Homo sapiens: one gene and its partner. The protein of the gene in region 1 interacts with the protein of each later gene in a pairwise test. Each region holds a gene or a part of one and is shown on either strand. Other genes may lie near its edges.

What was found.
Region 2: the proteins of SCHIP1 (region 1) and PRPF18 interact in binary tests that used the Homo sapiens proteins (3 or more experiments, as listed by UniProt).

Annotation. Positions count from the first base shown.
Region 1 is NC_000003.12:159,267,638-159,279,505, forward strand, and holds the start of SCHIP1 (schwannomin-interacting protein 1), read left to right. Parts: upstream 1-5,606; 5' UTR 5,607-6,183; coding exon 6,184-6,246; intron 6,247-11,868.
Region 2 is NC_000010.11:13,606,564-13,618,342, forward strand, and holds part of PRPF18 (pre-mRNA-splicing factor 18), read left to right. Parts: intron 1-3,475; coding exon 3,476-3,622; intron 3,623-5,051; coding exon 5,052-5,120; intron 5,121-7,177; coding exon 7,178-7,318; intron 7,319-7,451; coding exon 7,452-7,523; intron 7,524-9,834; coding exon 9,835-9,990; intron 9,991-10,376; coding exon of another isoform or gene 10,377-10,418; exon of another isoform or gene 10,419-10,433; intron 10,434-11,779.

The DNA of each region.
Region 1 (11,868 bases):
AGCAGAATTAAGTGCCATTCCTGCAGCTGCCCAACTTCTACCAGCAGACCTTACTTCATTCCTAGTCAAGAGGAATTATAGTCCTGAGCAGGGTCAAAACCACCGATTTGGACCAGCTGAAGACTGTTACCTCAGGTGTGAAGTAACACCTGAGTGTTACTTCTGGCGTGAAGGCTGTGGGATGCTTAGGTTAACAGCACTGCTTAAGTGTCCCGGCATTTAGCAAGAGTGTCTGGATATTCAACAGCTAGCCAGATGACCCACCAAACCTTTCCAAATATACTTCTAAAAGTCAGTCTTACCCTTGCTGTTGAACGCGGCGTATTCACCAACATTCAAACTGCTTCATTATCCTCAAGCTTTATTGCCCTTTTCAGATTTACAACCTCCAGGCTTTAAATACATCAAGAAAACTCTGGTGACTAATTAGGGAGAAAGTCTTGTTACAAAGTCACACTTGGTTGGGGGAAAACTCAGCCCTGAAAGAGGATTTCTGGGACCCCTTCTAATACAATTTTGAGATATTTAAAACTATAGAGAATATGGGCCGGGTGTGGTGGCTCATGCCTGTAATCCCAGCACTTTGGGAGGCTGAAGTGGGCAGAACACCTGAGGTCAGGAGGTCGAGACCATCCTGACCAACATGGTGAAACCCTGTCTCTACTAAAAATACAAAAATTAGCTGAGCATGATGGTGTGCGCCTGTAATCCCAGCTACCTGGGAGGCTGAGGCAGGAGAATTGCTTGAACCCGGGAGGCAGAGCCTGCAAGTGAGCCGAGATTGTGCCACTGCACTCCAGCCTGGGTGACAGAGCAAGACTCCGTCTCAAAAACAACAACAACAACAACAAAAACAAAAAACAAACTATAGCGAATGTAAGCTTTGTGCTACTTAATAATTTAATAACCTAGATTTTCCAGGTCAGGGACAGGTTACAGTATTAAGCTCAGCTGTTATAAATTTAGGTCTCATGAATTCTAATGTTTTAGTACCCAAACATTATCTTTCATCCTTCCTTTCAGACCCCCAAATAGCACAAATTCTTTGTCTATTTGTTCCAAATTTTGGTTCTGAGAATATATTAACCATATATAAAAAGAGAAGACTTCTTAGTATTTACTTAGAAGTAGATACATTCCTCTTCTTTCAAACCAGAGCCTGAGAGAGTATTTCATTTTCCAAAGTTTTACAAATTATATAATATATAAACATATATGACAGTATGCATAAATCTATTTTTATATAAAATAGTATCTTTATACCACAAACATCCTCTCCCTTTTATGTCTCTAAATATTGGCTGATAATATAGATTCCTTTTCCCAAATTATCCTTTTAACATCATGGTTTGAGGGTAATTTTTCTTGATAGGTTTAAAAATAAACATGTTGTTCTGGTTTGGGGATTTAAAATTTTTTCAAAAGGACTGCTAATATTAAACATTGCGTGAGTTCAGAACGATATGCAAAATTGACAGTTAATTGATCACTGATTCATTCATCCATAGTAACATAATAAATCTTCCTTAGCAGTCTCTACACTTAATGACCTATGAGTATAGATGTGAAAATCTAGACATCAAGTATGTCACCTTTGATAAAGATAGTTGAGAAATAACTTGTTTTCTGTGTAGTTTACCTTAAGTCCACTCTTGGCATTTGTCCTCATATAAATTCTGTTTTTATTCTATGGCTTGGTGAGATAAATTGTTAGATCTCTAATTTAGACACAGAGTGCACCTACATAATAAATCCAGTTTTATTATTACAAATAAACATTCCAAAGCACAGAAAGACAAACATTGCATGTTCTCACCTATTTATGGAATCTAAAAATTCAAAACAATTGAACTAATGGGCAGAGAGAATAGAAGGATGGTTCCTAGAGCCTTGGAAAGGGAGTGGGAGCCTGGAGGGGGGCAACTGAGAATAGTTAACGTAATGGGTACACACAAAAAAAGAATGAATGAATAGGCATACTATTTGATAGCAGAACAGGGTGACTATAGTCAGTAATAACTTAATTGTACATTTTAAAATAACTATAAGAGTATAATTGAATTGTTTGTAACACAAGGATAAATGCTTGGATGGATACCCCATTCTCCGTGATTACTTAACGGATAATAATGTGATTATTTTACATTGCATACCTGTATCAAAACATCTCATGTACCCCATAAATATATGCACCTACTATATCTGCAAAAAAAAAAAACAAAAAACCAACATAACCAACATTCCACTCATTGAATGGGTATAAAAGACGCTTTAGGGTCGGAGGAGAAATTAGATGTAGTGAAACTGGAGAGTGATGTATCATTGTATTACATTTCTTCTGGAAAGCTCATTAGCCTAAGGGTCTTTTGTAAATGAGACATCTTTCGGGGTGGGGGATAATTATTCACATCCCTGGATTAGGTCTACATTCATTCACTCGTTCAACAACTATCTGAATGTCTACTGTGTGCCAGGCCTTTGCCAAGCACTGGGGATACAATGATCACCAAAAGAAAACAACCTATGCCCTTGCAGAATTTACAAATTCCTCAGTCATGGTTGTCAATTCTTGTAACAGAGCTGTTGATAACATAGGCAATGATAACTATTAATTGATTAATTGTATAGAAGGTTTAGGTGCTACTATTAAGAAAAATCTTACTGCTGAAACATCTTCTAGAGCAGAATTTCTCTGAATGTGGTACCTGAAATATTACTTTTACAGGACGTTGGTAAATGTTAACTGGAAGAGAGGTAAAATGAGTCAATTTATTTACTTTACGACTTCTTCGAGCCTTTTTAAGTTTCTACACATTTTGATTCTGCAGGAAGGCTGTATTTTTTTCACACTTTCTATGCTTCTTTGAGCATGAAACCTGAAATGAGTCACATCTTACTGGGCTTAATGGATCCATGGAACACACTTTGAGAAACATTATCTTAGAGTTACTAGTTGTTAAAGGAAAATTCCAAGAACTCGAATTTTCCTCTAAGTGGCTCAATAATGCAATTAATGAGTTGAACAATGCATTTAGCAAAACTTCCAATGAAAGTTTTATATACATGTCCTTTTTATAGGCCTCTATCTATAGAGCTGTATTATGCAAATGAAAATTTTATTAAGTTCACAGATAAAACTTGTTGCATTAACTGGCTCGTAGGGTTTACATAAAAAACAAATCTAATCAACAAAACAATAGTACTGGAAGATGGAGTTTTAGAAAGTCAATAAATAACTCATTTTCCTTTCTTGATTTAGAAACTTATTTTCAGAAATAAGAGATTTAGGCAGAGGGAGATCAAAATCTCAACTTTATTTCCGGTCAAAGCTGGATTGGAGGGTGTAACTCTGACTGTGGCAACATTTGACATCTTACTATTGAACTTTGAAATGAGAGAAACTTACCAGTCTCACCCACAGGGCAAGCCAGTGTGAATCCTGTGCAGGGAGCTGGATCCCACACAGAGACAGAGGAAGGGTGATCCTGAGCTGTAGATGCCCAGTTCCTTTGCCTAATCCTCCAATCAGTGTAGCTCTTTCCACCTTTGTAGAGAGGAGAAAAGGATGGAAATCAGAGGCTAGGAGTCTTTAGGAAAATGCTTTCTTATGGAAGCCTGAGAAAATAAGAAGGGGGTGCCCAACACTGGATACTTCAGGAAGCAAAAATTGGGCTTTTTAAAAAAAATCATTTTAAGAATCACAAATACTTTTTAGTCAGTTTGATTTTTATATGATTTTTTATATAGTAATATATTAATTAGAGTTTTCCAAATAATAATTACTTTTGGAACTTTTTATAAAAATGCATATTCCAGAACCACAACAGATCTATCATGTCAGAATATCTGAGAAGCAGCCTGGGACTTTTATTTTTATTTTTATTTTTTTGAGACAGAGTCTCACTCTGTTGCCCAGGCTGGAGTGCAGTGGTGCGATCTCAGCTCACTGCAATCTCTGCCTCCTGGGTTCAAGTGATTCTTCTGCCTCGGCCTTCTGAGAAGCTGGGATTACAGGTGCCCACTACACGCCTGGCTAATTTTTGTATTTTTAGTGGAGATGGGGTTTCACCATCTTGGCCAGGCTGGTCTTGAACTCCTGACCTCTTGATCCACCCGCCTTGGCCTCCCAAAGTGCTGGGATTACAGGGACTTTTAAATTTTTAAAAATTCCCCAGATAATCTTCATCATTGTTAAAGTGTAGAAAATACTAAACTGTAGAAATTGACCAAAAATATCTGCTTTATTTAGGAAACTGAAGTGGATCAGAACATTTAGATGATCAATTTTTTTTCTCAATTTTTTTTTGGATATTTTAGCCTTTGGAATAAAATATTCCAAATTTTATTTGGATATTTTTCTCAATTTTTATTTGGATATTTAGCATAAATTTATTTGGATAAAAATTTATCCAAATAAATTTTTATTTGGATATTTTATTTGGATATTTTAGCATTCTCAATTTTTATTTGGATATTTTAGATACGCGGTGAGAAGCTGGTGAGGCAATATTTTCCTGATGAGATGCCAGAACAATCACCATTGCTTTAATAGAATTTGTTCAGTGGCACTGGTTGTGTGGAAAATTGTTTTCTCCTCAGATTTATGGTTTTTTCTCAAAAATATGACAGAATACTGTGCTCTTAAAGGAAAGCTGCTTTTGTTTGATCCATTTGGCCTTAAGGGAGGGAATACATTTAATAAGCACTAATTAGATTAGTTTCAAGTTATTCTTCACTTGGGCTATAAGAATTGTTTAGTTGGCATGAAAGGGGATTAGATAATTTATTAACTGGCATAAATGACAATTATGGCTGAAAATCATAAATTATGGCATATGACTAAATAGAAAGAGAAAAATATGTTGCAAAGAATGATCATGGACATTGCTCATTTAAACATTCTTTAAAAGAATATGTGTACTATGAATTACCAGTTAGGTGTGCAGATTAGTAATAATATAGCTAATTTTCTATTTTTACTTTATTCAGAACTGAAAAACATCTAAAAATAGTGAGTTAAAGAACGTTTTTCTTTAACCAACACTTGAAAATATACTCCAATCGTTTCAGAGATAGTAAGATGTTTTTATGTTTATATAACTTTTTAATTTTGTTACATAAACTGTTGTTAGAAGTTGAAGATGGTTTCCTTAATTTTTATTTTGCAATCTTTATGGATTGAATTAAAAAATAATTTTTGGACATGCTAAATATTCTGAGAGGTGTTTAGAAGTAGATTCTATATCCTTAGAGAGCCTCTAGTTCCCACAGCAGCTTCTCCAGGGAAAAGCCCTTCTTCACTATATTCACCACAAATTAATGGCAGTTATTCATTTTTTAAAGCAGTACCAGAAGCTGATCTTAGCTTAAAGGGGAGGCTTCATCTCACATATGAGCAGCAAATTGATTTTCTCTTCATGGCACTGTATCGATAGGGTTAAGTATTTTGATAGAAGACCATGCTATTTAATATAAGTAGATTTTCAAGAAAATCACTATGCTAAATACTTCACTAGAAGGACTTTATCTATATACAGCAGCAACTGTGACCTGCTTTAGAGATGACATCATTGGGTGTCATGTGGCTCTTTATACGTTTCAGCCTCAGAAAGAGATAATCTGTGAAAGCCACAGAGCCTGATTTCTGCTGTGATAATCTTCAGCAGACCGAGGCTGGGGCGAGAATGAGGCAGACCTGTTTACATGGTGTGTGCAGTGCCTTGTGGAATTCTTAACTCTATTTTATTGTATTATTTTTAATCGAAAAGTAGATCAGATGATAGCATGAAGTGAATCGGCTGCTTTGGACTAATGGGATCTTCTTTTCTGCATTAAGATCAAGAACTTTTCTGGAATCCTCTGTTCTCCGAGTAGCCTTGTCTTCTCTGTGTGTTTTATCAATTTGAAGAACACTGGCAAAAATCAGCAAACTTCATCTCCCAAAAAGCTCTCGCTCTTTTTTGCCAATACTTGAAGATTTCTGCTCCAAAATCTACTTTGAGCTGCTTGAGCATGGTGGTTGATAACCGAAGGGCAAAAGCATCACTTATTTAGTGTGTGTTATAGAAATTTTTTAGACAACCTTACTAGCTAACCCAGGTGACCCTTTACGGATTTCTTTCAAAGCCAATTTGAATAAACAACTCTTCCCTCTCAAATGGGCAAGAGTAACTCTTCAGCACCATGGAGAGGTCCGGGCAGCGTGTTACAACGTGGGACTGTGACCAGGGCAAGCACTCTGACAGTGTAAGTTTTACAAATGTCTACCATCTATTTTAGGTGTATCATATTTTTACAAATGAAGAGAGAAAACTTCAAAGTCGAACTAAGTAACTTTAAATTTAAGCTGATGGCCTTCATTACATTTTTAAATTCAGAATTAAGCATTTAAGGTATATTGGAATGTTCATTTGAAAAAAATACTTTCTCATTGCATAGTTAGTATGTGGATATTTGGTGCTTTGAATTTTGAGAATCTAAGTTTGAGTGTTCTTTTTTGTAGTGCACCAAAACTAATTGCATTGCAGTGGACTTTGGAAATAGCATTTTAATATACACATGTAAATAGTTCCAAATGTACAATCTGTTGCCCTTTGTATGCACAAGACTCTCTTTGGAAAGTAGTTCCTGATTTGTACAGTTTGGGAAGATCAGTGTTAAACTTTTTCAATTTAGATTATACTTTCAGTTACCAAAAGAACAAATGTCTAGGTATTCTAATGTCAATACATGGGAGATATTTGATGACTTAAAAAATCTCAAATTTATTGGTATGAAATGTATAGAGTGGCAGCTTATTATAAGTAGAAATAACAGACAATTTTATAAAATTATATATGGGCTATTGAAATAGTACTTTTAGCATTATTGAAAATAATTAGTTTCAAAATGTTCAATTTAAATCTTCAAACCAGAAATAAAAAAAATGGTTTCTTCAAAAACATCTTTTAACTCCATCTTTTAGACTATCAAATTTGTAGTTCTATGATATTATTATATGACACAACCAACGAAGAAATAATACTTTGAATTACTACCCAGAATGACCCCAACAGATATTTTGATTAGCTATTCAAATTTTTTTCTAAGAGAACATATTGTCATTAAAAAGTAACTTTAACAAATCATGATTCTTTTCTCAGGCCAATTAAACTTAGTTTGGAACATTTATTTATGCAGAATCATTTATTTTAAAGCCTAATAAAATATATTTTTATATAATTGTATTATAAAATTTATTTCCTTTAGTAGTTTTCTTCATATTTAAAAACCAGTAGTAAATGCAATTTACTCAGCTTGACCTCCAATTCAAATATAATGGATTCTTTCTGTTATGGATAATTTCCAAGTGAATTACTGTTGCTTCTTAACTCTTCAGTAATTTGGCATTTGATTTTGGGATAAATGGTACTTACATTTTGACAGTGTATGAAGTGCATAATTTTAGAGGATGTAACAATTTTATATAAAGGAGACCTTAGTATACATTTTTGTCATCTTTGCTCAATAGATCCACTGATAATTTCCATAATTGATGTCAGTATTTAAAAGGCCTCAGTTTTTGAAAAGAATGAAAGGTAGATTTATGATTTCAGTTTTTTTAAGTTTCATTTCCCAAAATTTTATTATTCTGCTTTGGTTTAATAGGTAAGTAGGACTTTTCACACACCATTGCATGTACCTCTGTGATTTTAAACTTAAATTGTTCCCTTATGGCAAACTGTATCCATTTGCAGCCCCTGATGAACTTTGAACAAATCATTCTGGTTTATTAAATTGTACATTCTAATCCAGAAGAATCCAAGACTCATGTCATAAAACGCATCTGCTTGCTGTGAAATGGTGTCAGATTTTATTCTGATTCAGAAATTTATTTGATCTTTGTCTCTGTCTCTCTGAAGGATGTGACTCATTTGTGATATTGTCAGAAGTGTAACTTTTATATTTGCTGCTTTTTTTCCAAACATTTTAGTGATATATTTATAACTATTATCCAGCACACACATTTTTCTGTAGTTGAGATATTGTTGTCTATGTATTTATTTAAGCAGAAATTGTTGCTGTATGACAAACTACAAGCACATGTTTGCTTCTGTTTTGATAGCCTTTCAATCATTATTGAAACAGTCACCTGAACAGTAGAAAAATGTTCAGAGCTAAACTGTTAGATATTCACATTTCTTTTTCTTTCTTTCTTTTCTTTTTTAAATAACATTCTGGTGGTAGCAGATGTATGTGAACAATCTTAAATTTAGTTGAGTGACATTTTGCTTTTCTTGCCAATGTAAAAATATGCTCCCAGATCTCTTTACTGTGGTCCACCCACCCTTGCAAGGGATTTATAACCTTTGGCTACAAAGAATGTAGGGGCATATTTATTTATGAAAGCCACCCTAGTTAGGATGCTTTGCAGGGTGGCTGAATATAGAGGCAGCTAATTGGCGGGTGTGGTTTTTACTGCTGATTTTAACCCTTTTGGCACTAAGAAAGATTAGTTCATCTTGGAAATAGTTCTTACATCCAAGGTATTCAGTCTCATCTCTGTTGCATCAGTCTCCATCACATATTCCTGTAGAAGCAACTCCCCTAGCTACAGTCCCAACAGGAGAAGTTCCAGTAGGGAAGAGCCTGAAACTGAAATGTGTTGCAAGAAGGTCCTAAATGGTAGCTTCTTAGAGGGACATAGGGATCCTTGGGGTTATTTCAGTGAGCAGGATGCTGATTGATTCCAAATGGGTTCTAGGCTTGTTTAGTATGTCTCTAACACTACAAGGGGCACAGTGGACATTAGAGGCTCAAGAGAGGTACCCTAGCATCCCAGAGAATCACTATAGATTGATGATTCATCATAAAACTTTCTATCAAGTGATTTTTGTCCTCAGTTACTACATTTTACTGTTATTCCTTTCTCTGTCCCAATTTTATTTGCAAGGTACATTCCTACTTTGTATTACATGATGGACCTAACTAGGTATGACCTGACTGATTTGAGATTTACATTAAATATTACTAGAAATGATGGAGTAATCTTACCTTTTCCAGAGAATAGAAAAGAGCTTAGGGACTTTTCATGCAAGATATACACATTGCTGAAAGTCCAGGAATATTATCCAAATAGAAATGTCTGGATATGATGCTTTTCTCACTTTGACTAATTTTTCAAATTCCAGTCCCTCTAAATGGATTTTACTCTCCCCCATAAGTAAACTTAAGTTGCAGCATGTAAAGAACAAGTACACATCCAGGCAGCCAGTCCTAGGGACGAAGTCAGCCCACTTCCATCTTGCCTAATTTGTCCTGTAATTCTGACTCTCATCTTGGATTTTTCACACCATCTCATCTACACTTTTGGAGTTGACTCACTACATCACACAGTGCCTGATTCCATTAATAAGACCCATCTTGATGCAATACACATTTTGAATCCAACATTCTGGATTGACCTCAGTAGCATGCTTCTCTGGAATGCTGTTTTAGTGCTCGATCTCTGACTCCTGTGCACCACAATGGCAGGAAAAAAAAACCCCACTTCTCCACCGGTTTCATTTTGTGTGCTTTGAAACTGATGGAACTGTACTGTGTAGAATACAATGTTGGTATAGAAAGCATGTACATTGATTACCCATGATATAGTAAATATCTATTTTTAAAAGCAGTCAAAGACAGACTCAGCCTAATGATGTGACAGTAGATATAAAAGAATATAAAGCTTCAGTGCCTTAGTGCAATTCATACAAATTTGCTTATGTTTCATTTTTGTTAAGATTCCTGGAAATATAAATACAAGCATTGTATCTGGACTTTAGTATGGCTTGGAAGAATTTTTTCTGATGTCTTGGTGGAGAAGATAAAGACCTGTGAATGGAATAATAATTTGGAGCTAGAAACCAATTTACTGACCCCTGGGCAAGGGAATTTCTATCAGAATATGTGACTAGTAAGGGACCTCAACACTGAGCAATCAGTGGAAGATTTATGGAGAAATTAAAAAATAATATTTACAGGCTGGTGCAGTGGCTCACGACTGTAACCCCAGCACTTTGGGAGGCTGAGGTGGGTGGATCACCTGAGGTCAGGAGTTCGAGACCAGCCTGGGCAAAGTGATGAAACCCTGTCTACTAAAAATACAAAAATTAGTGGGGCATGGTGGCAGGTGCCTGTAATCCCAGCTACAGACTGAAGCAGGCGAATCACTTGAACCCACTGGGTGGAGGTTGCAATGAGTCGAGATCATACCATTGCACTCCAGCCTGGACAACGAGCAAAACTCCGTCTCAAAAGAAAAAAAAAAAAGGATGGAGCTATTTTTCAACGGTATAGGAATAAAGCATTGAGCTTCTCATCACCAGAAAGATGAGTCACACTGGATGACCCACATAAAAGATGCTATAGAAGGGGACTCCCTAATGGTGTGTGTGCATGTGTAGCAGAAGGGCTATGTGATCTCTAAGGTCTTTTCCAACTTAGACATGGATAAGGGTCATCAGTGCAGTGTCATCTCATTTAAAAAAGAAAGCAATAATTTCTTCATTCAACAAATATGTACTGGGTACATACTCTTGTGATTACAAGAACTGAGATGATTAATCCTCCCTGAGCTCCTTGAGAAACCACCCACTTGAAAAGGAGTAAGGGGAAAACTGGGAAATAAAACCCCAGGTAGGTTTTATTTTAAACCTCAGGAGTTGGGAAAAACCCAGGAGGGAGAGTAAGATGCATCACTTGGATCTATTTGAGAAGGGAAAACTAGGTTAAAGGAGAAAAAAGCAGAACTGGAGTTATAATTTATCTTTTCATTATCTCTAGCATAGAGATACTACAATGCATAAAAAAGAAATGAAAAATTTAGAATTCATTGATCACTAATCAATTCTATGATTCTATTTAGGACTGTCAAATCTCTAATGAGCTTTTTTGCTCTTTCGCCTGTATCCTTTCAATCTGTATAGCTATAGCTGCATCATATACCTTTAAAGATTCTGTTCCAATTGTCATCTATTCTTTTATAAATTGGGAGAAATCCTGAAGCTGTAGACCATCAATTCAAGGGGTCAATATCAAGTCAGCATAGATACTGGCCCTGCTCTGAATTTGAATCTTTGCTTGATTAATTTATCATACATGGTGAATCTAGGCTATGCTGTAACGAAGGGATCCCCAAAAGTATAATAGCTCACAAACAGCAGTTTTTTTCCTGTTTAGGCATCAGTACTGAAAGGGGAAGCAATACAGTGGGGTGACCCTTCTTCATATAGTCATTCAGAGAACCCAGGATGGTGGGAGCTATGCCATCTTCAACACATGGCTCTCAAGACCACCTTACAGTTGTCTCCCTTCTAGCAAAATAGAAAGGAAAAAGGGCACATGTGGGAGGTTCTAGTGGGCCCATTCTGAAAGAGGCACACATCACTCAACTCACATTCTTTTGACTGAACCCAGTCACATGCTGATATGGTTTGGCTGTGTCCCCACCCAAATCTCACCTTGAATTGTAGCTCCCATAATCCCCATGTGTCATGAGAGGACCCAATGGAGGGTAATTGAATCATGGGAGCAGGTTTTTCCTGTGCTGTTCTCATGATAGTGAGCAAGTCTCATGAGATCTGATGGTTTTATAAAGGGCAGTTCCCCTGCACACACGCTCTTGCCTGCTGCCATGTAAGGTGTGCCTTTGCTCCTCCTTCACCTTCTGCCATGATTGTGAGGCCTCCCCAGCCATGTGAAACTGTGAGTTCATGAAACCTCTTTTTCTTTATAAATTACCCAGTCTCGGATATTTCTTCATAGCAGTATGAAAATGGACTAATACACATGCCATACCTAACTGCAAGGGAGGCTGAGAAATATCCTACAGGTTACATAGAAATA
Region 2 (11,779 bases), on another chromosome or scaffold:
GTCTCTACTAAAAATACAAAAATTAGCTGGGCGTAGTGGCGTGTGCCTGTATTCCCAGCTACTTGGGAGGCTGAGGCAAGAGAATCACTTGAATCCGGGAGGTGGAGGTTGCAGTGAGCTGAGATTGTGCCACTGCACTCCAGCCTGGCGACAGAGTGAGACTCCTTCTCAAAAAAAAAAAAAAAAAAAAAAAAACAGGGATAAAACTGCTATGACCATTCTTATGCAGATCTTTTTTTGGAACTATGTTATTTTTCTTGGGTAAATAAATAGGTCTCTTGGGGAGATACCTAGAAGTAGAATTGCTGGATAATAAGAGTAGATGTATGCTTAACTTCATAAGAAATGCCAGTCATTTCCAAACCCCAGCATGTGGTATTGTTAGTCTTTTTAATTTTAACCATTCTCTTTTGTGTCTGGTAGTAGCTCTTTGCGGCTTTAATCACATTACCTGATGACTAAAGATGAGGAGCATCTTTTCATAAAGTTGTGTTCATTTGTGTAGTGTCTGTTAAAGTCTTTCTTTCCTTATTTATTTATTTTTTTGACACAGAGTCTCACTCCGTCACCTACGCTGGAATGCGGTGGCATAATCATGGCTCATGGCAGCTGCAACCTCCTGGGCTTAAGCAGTCCTCCCACCTCAGCCTCTCAAGTAGCTGGGATTACAGGCGCTTTTTGTTCATTTTAAAAATAAACTTGTCTTTTTGTAAATGGATTATAGGAATTCTTTGTATATTCTGGATAGAAGTTCTTTGTCAGATATACGAATATTTTTTGTGACTATTTTCTTGTAGTTTAGGGCTTACCTGTTCTCTTAATTGAATCTTTTGCTGAACAGAAGTTTGTGTGTGTGTACACACACGCTTTTTGAGACAGGGTCTCACTCTCACCCAGGCTGGAGTTCAGCATGATCATGGCTAACTGCAACCTCTAGCTCCTGGGCTTAAGCGATCTCCCACCTCAGCCTTCCAAGTAGCTGAGACCACAGGTGTGTGCCACCATGCCTGGCTGATTTTTTAATTTTTGTAGAGATGAGGCCTCCTCATGTTGCCCAGGCTGATCTTGAACTCCTCTACTCAAGGGATCCTCCCGCCTTGGCCTCCCGAAGTGCCCGGGCCAGAAGTTTTATATTTTAATGAAGTCCAATTTATTGTTTTTTCCTTTTATGGTCATTGCTTTTTGTGTCCTGCTTAAGAAATCTTTGCCTATCCCAAGATTTCAAATATATATTCTTAATTTTCTTCTAGAAGCTTAATATTATAGTTTTTGCTTTACATTTAAGGCTCTGATCTTGTTTTATGGCTTAGCATATGGTTTATTCCATGGGCTCTTGAAAAGAGTATTGTTTTGCTTTCATGGTACAGTTCTACAAATGTCAGTGATGATAGTGTTGTTCAGATCTTCTTTGGCCTTGCTAACTTTTTATCTACTTGCTTTCTCAATTATTGAGAGACAGGTGTGGTTACCTATGACTATGTAACAGACTACTCCAAAACTTACTAGTGTTTGTTTATTTATTATAAAGGATTTATCATTACCAAATCTGTTTTTGGTGATTAACAAGCCACCCTGAAACTTGATAGCTTAAGATAATTTGTTATTGTCTTAATAATTACCAGTTCTGTGGTTTTATTGGGCTGGATTGAGCAGTATCTTGCTTGGGGTCTTTATTGTGATTGCAGTCAGATGAAGGCTGCGGCCGAAATCATGTGAGGCTGCCTCTGGACTGGTCTTCTAAGCTGATATCTTGCCCCTTTCCTGGCGTCTCAGTTGGAATGGCAGGAACAGCTGGGGCTGGCCAGGCCCGCTCCCCGACCTGCTCTGTCTGCTAGCCTGGGCTGTCTGACTGCTTTCTTTGTTGCCAAACCACTTTCCTGCTTTACTTCCCAGCATTGTCATTCCAGCCCCACAACACTAGCAGTTGCTTTCAGTCCTCTGTGTCTGTAATGATCATTTTTCCTTTGCTTGCTGTGTTTCTGCCTTGTATGCTCTGGTTGAAATCTTGTTTTTATACTTTCACATGCAATTCAGTGACCACATCTTCTCTCGGAATCTATTTTTGGTCCCAGTCAGAATTAATTGCTTCCTTCTCCATGTGCCTATGAGTAAACCTTTGTTAGTGTACTTACTGTTTTTCGCTATTATTAGAGTTATGTGCATATTTATCTCTTCCTGGTGGGCAAAGGCTGTTTTACCTTTGTATGCCAAGTCCTGTGCCGTGCATCTAGAGGTTTTGAGGACAAAGCACAGGAGCACAAGGTCTGGATTCCATTCCTGGATTATAGTAATCAATTATTTGGCCGTTGGCAAGTCTTTTACTCTATTTGAACCTTAGAATCTTCATTGGTAAAACAGAGGCAGTGATATTTGGCTCACTGGGATGCACTGAGAATTCGATGAGGTGACCTCTGGGAATGCCTGGCGTCATACTTTTTACACAGCAGGTGATCAGTCAGTGTTTGAGAAATTATAAGTGTTTTGAGTTGAATGTTTCTCTTCTGTGTTTATGAAGGGACAGGAGACAATGATCAGATGCTTTTTGTGTGAGAACGTTAGGAGTTAACATTGGTTGAATGTGCACCGTGCTCCAGTAACTGTTCAAAGCTCATCGTCCATTTCTTAGCTTACTTGCGTGACTTGATGTTTGCGAGGTTCTGGAACAGCTGCATCACATAGTAACTGTTCACTGAAATAAAAAATAGCATCCTTATTACAGCCCTACGTAGTAGATGGTGCCATTACTCCTATTCTGTAGGTGAGTCTACTGAGGCACACAGGGGTTAAGCAAGCTTTCAAAGAGCTATTTAATAGTATGTGGCAAGGATTTGAACCCAGATAGCTTTTACTCTCAACCATTACCCTATAGCCGCCTCACAGCCATGTTTCCTTGGCTCTTAAACCTTGCAGCTGATTCTCATTCATTTTTAGGAAGATGAGGCTTCCATTTTCATTAAAGGGTCATGAACCATATGTGCATAAAATGCGAATTTGCTGGTTTGCTAGAAACATAGTTGAGAACCTGGGATATAGATGAGGCACCAATTTTATTACACTGATGTTTCTGAATGTTTTGGGAGTTCACAGTAGTTGAGGTTAGACATTGTAAATGAGCTGGGCAAACGGGTTGGGGACTCTAATGGAGACCTGCCACTGTCACTAAGCCTCATTAGAAAATTACAGCATTGATGAAGATTCTTACTTGGATTTGTCACTCACGTGTATTTTATTTTTCTGACCAGCAGACTGGCCATTGTTTGTGCATTGTTTTAATTTAAATAGGTCCGTAAGAATTAACTTTAAATGGACAGTAGTGATAGTTGTGTGATAAATTGATGTGATTTGAGTCCCTACTTTTGCTGAACTCTTCTTGTGGGGGAAAAAATATTTGCAGTTATTAATGAAAAATCAAAGGTGAAAAAACAGGTGTTCTTCCTTTCATAACAGGTGTTCTTCCTTTTTTTGCTTTTCTTAGGGATTGAGGAATGATTTGAAAGCAGCCTTGGATAAGATTGATCAGCAGTACCTCAATGAAATCGTCGGCGGTCAGGAGCCTGGAGAGGAAGACACACAGAATGATCTGAAAGTTCATGAGGAAAACACCACAATTGAAGAGTTAGAGGTAATCTCTACACCAAGCCCAGCACATCCCTGGCACCCTTCTTTTTCCTCTGGAGCAGATGACTGAGTCGGGCAGATTGTTGAGGGCAGAGCACACTGTTGTCCTTGGTCTTTTGTTTATTTACTCCTCGCTTTTATTTATTTACTCCCCTTTTTCTCATCCTCCACTCACATTCCCCTACTTCCTGCCTTCAAAAGGAACCCATTCTAATATGTTGGATATGCATCTTTCTGTTTGTTGGTGCTCTTGTGACCTGCAGTGTTTTGTGAGCATGTATTTTTGATTTACATAAATGATGTTATGCTGTGAAATTCTTTATTCCGTGTTTTACTTTTCTTTTTTTCAGTTAGCACTATGTTTTTAAGAGCTATCCTTGATGCTCTGTGTACACTGAATCCTTTGCTTTTAATTGCTACATAGGATTCCATGTGTTACGCCATTCACTGCATTTGACTTTTTGTTCTCCGGTAATGATGGACAGCTAGATTGTTCCCAGCTCTCTCCTACCACAAACAGCTTCCTGATGAACAGTCTTGTGCATAACCACGATGGCCTAGCAAAGTGGGATTGTGGGATTTATATATGTATATTTAACTTGTCTAAGTACTGCCAAGTTACTCTCTGGAATGGCTGTCCTAGTCTACACCCAGCAGTGTGAGGGTCCCCTGTCTTTCCAGCCCTGCCAACGCTTGGCAATATCTTGCTGTCTGATTTTTGCTATAGTGCTGCTTTTGGAGTGTTAGTGTATAATCTTAATTAAAAAGCAATTTTGTATCATGTAAGTAGCATGTAAAATAAATATGGCTTAAAGTTCTTAATGCTTAAGGAAACATAAACTTATTTTTCTGTTTCCTTTAATTCCTGGCTCTTGTATGTGTAGCTGTCCCTCTGAATAAGATCATAGTTGAGGAAGACGTCATTTTAATCCCCTGCCTCCTCCAATACCTGTCTATGGTCCCTAAATTTTACTAAAATAATTGGTATGGGCAACCAGTTGTGGGCTTTTTTTTTTTTTTTTTTCCTATTGGTGTATTTATTTGTTTATTTTTAAAAAACAGCTTTATTGAGATATTGACATACCATACAGTTGACTGATTTAACATATACAAATCAGTGGTTTTTAGTATATTCACATGGTGGTGCAACCATTATCACAATCTAATTTTAGAACATTTTGGTTCCCCCAAAAAGAAATCTCACATTCATTACCCCCTCTTGACTTTTCATAAAAGGTAACATGCTCTCCAAATTTAAGTGGCAAATCCGTGTTTTTTGTTTTTGGTTTCTTATCTAGAAATTCCATCCGATTTTTAAGTAAAAATTGAACAGCATATGTGACCAAGAGCCATGTTTAGACTGGTGTTGGTAATATATATGTTTAGTTGTTGCTCTGTATTAATGAACAGAAGCATTGTTTCTTTTTCTTCAGGCGCTTGGAGAGTCCTTAGGGAAAGGCGATGATCATAAAGACATGGACATCATCACCAAATTCCTGAAGGTGCGTGTCTTAGGCGAGGGGATGAGGATGCCTTGGATCCTTATGAACTATTCTTATATTTTTGGATTACCAAGGGTTAAAGGCTGGAACGGGAAAGCCTCAATACACATTTCTCACACATACATGATGTTTATGATATCACTATGCACTTGATGTAGCAGTTAGTAAGAGAAAATGCATATTTACTTTTCTTGTGGCTTTTTTTTTTTTTTGGAAACAGAGTCTTGCTCTTGTCTCTCAAGCTGGGGTGCAGTGGTGTAATCTCAGCTCACTGCAACCTCCACCTCCCGGGTTCAAGTGATTCTCCTGCCTCAGCCTCCTGAGTAGCTGGGATTACAGGCACCCACCACCATGCTTGGCTAATTTTTGTATTTTTAGTAGAGATCGGGTTTCACCATGTTGGCCACGCTGATCTTGAACTCCTGACCTCAGGTGATCCACCCACCTCAGCCTCCCAAAGTGCTGGGATTACAGGCATGAGCCACTGCGACTGGTCTGCTTTTCTTGTGGCATATTTTTTAAAGCTGGCTCATTAATGTAAACACATAGAAAAGAATCACAACAGCAGAATTAATAAGAAGTTGGTAGAGTTGCTTATTTTTTTCTTGAGGCAGAGTCTTGCTCTGTCGCCCAGGCTGGAATGCAGTGGCACCATCTCGGCTTGCTGCAACCACTGCTTCCTGGATTCAAGCGATTATCCTGCCTCAGCCTCTCAAGTAGCATGCCACCACACCCGACTAGTTTTTGTATTTTTTATTTATTTATTTATTTATTTTTTTAGTAAAGAGACAGGTTTTCACCCTGTTGGCCAGGCTGGTCTTGAACTCCTGACCACAAGTGATCCACCTGCCTCGGCCTCCCAAAATCCTGGGATTATAGGCATGAGCCACAGTGTCCCGCTGAATTTCTAGACAACCCAAGGAAGAAGAGGGTTCTAGCTTTTTTTTTTTTTTTTTTTTTTTTTTAAGCAAAAGTGTCTTTCTCTGTTGCCTAGGCTGGAGTGCAGTGGTGTCATCCTAGCTCGCTGTAACCTTGAAATCCTGGGCTCATCAACCTCCCGAGTGGTAGGGCATGTACCACCATGCCCAGCTAATTTTTTAGTTTTTTTTGTAACCTTACAGAGAGTGCTCAATTCTTCAGTTCTACAAATAGCTGCCTATTTTTGCTGACTTGCTGATTCCAACCGTCTTCTCAACATTTCTCTCTTTAGTGGTCTAGATAGAGTATGAACAAATCCCAGATATTTTATTGTTTATTCACAAACTGTGTTCAGACCAAGAGATTTACATGCAAGGAATGCTTTTTCTTGTGTGTACAGTTTAGATACAACATATTATTCATCAAGATTCTGAATATATTGAGGATACAGCATGGAAGTAGATAGGGCATAAGAATTAGTATGAACTAGAATTTCCTCTTTGAGTGATGGCCTCTTCTTTTTTAGGATATGCATAGATGATGCCCCTAGAGGACAACATCCTCCTCAGCCTTCTCTGTTTCCTACTTCCAGGAAGGGTGCCCTTTATACAGTTAAACCCAAGGGGCACTGAGGTAGTTATCTAGGGGTGGGGGTGGAGTGGGAATGCTGGGTCTTGGCTTCTTTATTTCTGTTTCTCTTTCTCCTTCCTCTCCTTTAGTCAGGTGCTTTCATGGTTTTTAAACTTAATCATGGTCTCTACAGCATATGTAGAAAGTCCAGTTTTCTTGTAACTCGTAACTTGTTGAATTTTATGTATATAATACAAATACAAATACAAGTTTATTTCCTCTCAAATAGTTAACTATGAAACTTGATAGTTGTTTTCTGAGGGAAGCAAATTATCCTGAGCTAGGAATAGATGTAGACTAGGGAAGTTGGTGACTTGCCAAAGGTACTACTTCAAAGCATTATCATGACCAATAAGCAGAACTAGCTTATTCTATATTATTTGGTGGCATTTTAATCAAGACATTTACTTTAAGGATGATTGTATTCTGTTTTTGTGTGCTAGAGAGCATTTAGATGTACTGAACCACTGGGTGGCATTGTAGTCTAAGTTTACCCATCCTTTCAACAGTTTCTTCTTGGCGTTTGGGCTAAAGAATTGAATGCCAGAGAAGATTATGTGAAACGCAGTGTGCAGGGTAAACTGAACAGTGCGACCCAGAAACAGACCGAGTCCTACCTAAGACCACTTTTTAGAAAGCTACGGAAAAGGGTGAGGTTTCTTGGAAAATACTTTTTTTAACTGACTTTAAAAATACAGTATAAATTTAGAATAAATGCAGTCTGTTTTTTCCCTATACATCTATACATAGTAGCTTCCAAAATTTCTTATTTATTTTTTTCAGAATCTTCCTGCTGATATTAAAGAATCAATAACGGATATTATTAAATTCATGTTGCAGAGAGAATACGTGAAGGTACATTCCCATGCTGTTCTTTGAAATTGTTAAGAGTATATCTAGGTTATGTACGTAATATAATGTTCATTTGGGATAGGAGGATTTTACATAGTAGATTTAAGAATAAATGTGAGATGAGTTAGTAGTAAAAAGCGTTTTATTTTCTATTGTATTTGCCAGCTTTACTGTTAGGCAGTGAATAACAAACCTGACTAAGAAAATACAGACCTCATCTGTATGCTCTTGGTCATTTTTAAAATAGGCCTAAAGGTTCTTCAGAGCATGAACTTTATATAGGCAGTGTTCATTTTATGAATTTCAAAGTTTTGTAAATGGCTGATTATGTCTTGGAACAAATTTTCCCATAGAAACAACGTTGTATAGATGAGTTTCCCAGGATGGTCATAAAAGCCCCTTTAATCTGTAATATAGCTGAACTGTTGCACTGATGGTACAGTGGAATTTAACCACTCTTTGTAATTGTTTCTATGGGGAAATGGTTCAAGCAAGGCTTCCAGGACTCATCTCTCCCATTTCAGCGTTGCAGACCCCTGCAGTGGAAGTCTCTCCTCCCTTGCCCCAGTGTCTATACTCCTGAATGGGCTCTGGGAGGCAGCGGTGAGGGAAAGGGTGCTGGTGTCCAGGGCTCCCTGAGATAGAGTTTAGAAAGGGATGAGAGGAGGACTGTCAGTTGGTACAGGGGAACAAGAAGGGAAGGGCCCAATGCACCAGTAGTGGCAATGAAGAAAGAACAGAGTTTGAGGGAGGCTTCTTGTGGCCGTGCCTCCCAAGGCACTAGGAGTAGAGCATTTCAGTGCAGCAACCCCAGTGCCAGTGCCAGAGCGGTAGGGAACTCGGAATGACATTGCTTATCCAGTGCTGTATCTGTATACTGACGTAACAAGGGACTGCTGGCATTCCTGAGTGACTGGATGATTTACGTGATTAGAGCCTTAGGCTAAAGAGGTTCCTGCAGTGATTTTACTCCTTTTAAGAGCCAGCCAGTTTTCTCAAAGAAAATATTTTTTGTCTTACAGTTATAAATGTGCTTCTTAGTTTCTGTCAGTTGCATGATTCTTACTAAGGATGGTTGCATTGGCATGGATGGATAAGGTCACCATCACTGCAGGAAGAATGCACATCACTCCCTGCTAGAATGGATGCCTTTCCTCTTACTGCTTTTTCTCGTGATCACATATCAGAACTAAGTGCAAGTGCAAGCTTATTTTGTATAAACTACAGAAAGAACCAAGAAGCTTTAATAACCTGTTTAGACAGTTTCTTTGAAATTTGGGGGAAACTAAATATTGCAGTTTTTATCAGTTAAGATCCAATGTTAAAGTTTATACACATGAAAATTAGTGATAAAAATGTACATAGGCCCTTTTTAAATTAAGCTTTATAAAACCGGTGAGCAGAGCAAGTTCACATTTATCTTTAGGGTAGAAAATGATCTTCCAGCTACCCTATCTGTAGTATCTGATTTTAAAAAAATTGACTCTCCCTATCAATCTCATAGGTGTCTGATTTTTTTAAATTAAAATCTCCTTGAGGCCTGGCTTTATAAGCTTCTCTTAACCCTTGAGGTCCTTTAGAATTTATTTGCTTTATGTTTTTCTTGTTCTTCCTCACAGCTAGCCAGGCTTGGTTAGGAAAAAAAGCCTTTTGTCTTCATTGGTTTCTGTCTTCATTTTTTGTGGCTGTTCTTTAACGGTTCTTGGCAGGTAGGGGGTGGGGTGGGGGGCAAAGTGGAGCGATCTCATCCTTCAGCTATTCGACTGGAGGGCCAGTGTTTCCTCTCTGTTTACACATCTGTTAAAGACCCTGTGTGGTCGTCGGCACATACTGAGCCCCCACTTCCTTCAGAGAGCCACAGTGCTGTGTAGGGAGTGGATATTGTTTAGGGTTGGACGATGAAAAACTACTTAGCCCCTGTCTTCTACATGACCCCCTGTGGAGAAGACTGGGTCTAAAGGAGACCAAAACTAGAATTTTCATCAGTGCATTGAAGTGCCTACCTGGTAATTCCAGATCTGCAACATATTAATTTCCAGCATACAAAGGCTGCAAAGGAATGTTTGCCTTTTTTTTACTCACAACCTAGCTTTGGTTTCTGTTTTTTCCATGGACATTGGTGGTCCTGGGCAGGGCAGTCTGTTACCCTGTATTTTAATCTGTTTTGTTTGAATAACAGTCATGGTAATATTTTCCATGTGCCCAAAAGGTGGACGAAAATTACATCATAAAGGGCTGTGAAATACTTTCAGTAAGAATTTGAGCCAGTACAACATTTTCGCCTTTCTGATTTCTTCTTACACTTTCCTTTCAGGCAAATGATGCTTATCTTCAGATGGCCATTGGAAATGCGCCTTGGCCCATCGGTGTCACTATGGTTGGTATCCATGCCAGAACTGGCAGAGAAAAGATTTTTTCCAAGCATGTTGCACATGTTTTAAATGACGAAACTCAGCGGAAATATATTCAGGTAAGCAGTTTGGAGAGCCGGGAATTGCCCTGGAAGTGAATATTCTCTAATTCCCAAAACTCTAAGTCTGGAAAGCAGGCAGAGAATTACAGCAAATAGAACATAGCGTGATAGGATGGAAGTCCCCTCTGGATAAGCACTGACACTGAAGCCACCTTCACTGAATAAAGTAAAAACCTTTCAACTTTCATATATGTTGGAAGACAAGGGTGAAGTATTGTGCTTTAATTACCTTAGCACTGAAATAAAATGATTGCAGTTTGCTTTTTTTTTTTAAGACGTGTATTAGGAAGTAAAAGTTGAGCTCATCAGAGAAATGTGGGAGTTTAGTGAAGAGCAACAAACTTAGAGTATTTTACAATAAATCCTGCTTTGTTGCTTTCAAGGTAAATCTAACATCTACTGGGTTCAAGATGTATGGAGAGTAAAGACTTGGCTTTAATGTACGTAGCACGTAACAACACTTCTTTAGTCATGTGAATAGGTCTAAAGTGCCGATGGTTTGTTTTCTTCAAGTTATACATGCTTCACATAAACTTGTTGGTACTGTTTTTGGGCTAAACTTTTCTCCCTAGTGGGAAGAAAATCGACTATAATGTAGTGTTTGCCAGATTGTCATAAATCCCAGATTGTGTCTGTAAAATGACTTGCTGGATGATAGTTCTAAAACTTGACAGTGATACTCCGGAAGTTTACTTAAAATTTGAAGTTCACTTAAAATGCATAAAGTGCTTTCAGATTTTGTGCCAGAGAACAGTCATTACCATATTCATGAAATATCTTTTTGTTTTTATTTCACTTCCAAGTGCTGAATGTTAATTCGTGTCATGCTTTATGCCTTAGTCACATATAATAGCTTTTTAAAATATGATTTCAATCGGACTCCCTCATGTGAACTGTATACAGAGTTCAAATATACTTCTGGAAATTCAACCACATTTCCATTTTTTAATAACCACCAGTGAGTGTATTAAAGGCAGAAGCTTTTAGCTGAAAAAAAAAAAAGTTGCTTAGCTTTAACAATAGAAAACAGGTTCCAAAGATTAAATTTGCTAATTGTGTTCATCTATATTGTGGCCAAAGGTATAGTGTATAAAAGTTCATATGATTAAATCAATCGTCTGAAAGACATTTCTTATAAACAGTAATGTGATTTTCACCTCCCCGAGGAGTGATTTTTTTTTAAGTATACCTAGCATTTATTCAAGAATTCTGGTTTATTTTGGAAGCTATGTAATGACCTGTCCTTACTCCATTGTTCTTCCTTTTTAACTGTTCTCTTCCCATTAAAAAAAATTCTTCTTTTGCCCCCTAGGTGATTAGAGAAAATTGATGAGCATACTGTATTTGAAATTTAGCTAGGTGTTTGAGGCAGACCCAGTGGTATTCTTGTGGATAGGGCAAATCAGGCTGGACTCATAGCTCATTGACAGAGGGAAGCCATGGAGCATTAAATAATGGACTCGTGTCTCTTAGGGTAGATGCTAGAGATGTATGTCAGGGGTCTTAGGGACCTCAGTGCTGTCCTGTCGAACCTTTTAATGACTGACTTGGATGGCTATACCGAAGGATGGGTTTATCAGGTTTGCAGACAGCAAGAAACTAGAAGGGATGGAGTGTATGTTAAGGTGGAAAAGAAACTGCTATTCTAGAAGTTCTTGACAGACGAGAGAGAAGGGCAGAGTCTAAAAATACAATATTTAGGAAGGAAGGATTACCATAAGAAAATTGGACCCATATACCCTTTTGCTTAAGCTTATAATTTGGGCAGTGGATATAAAAAAGAATT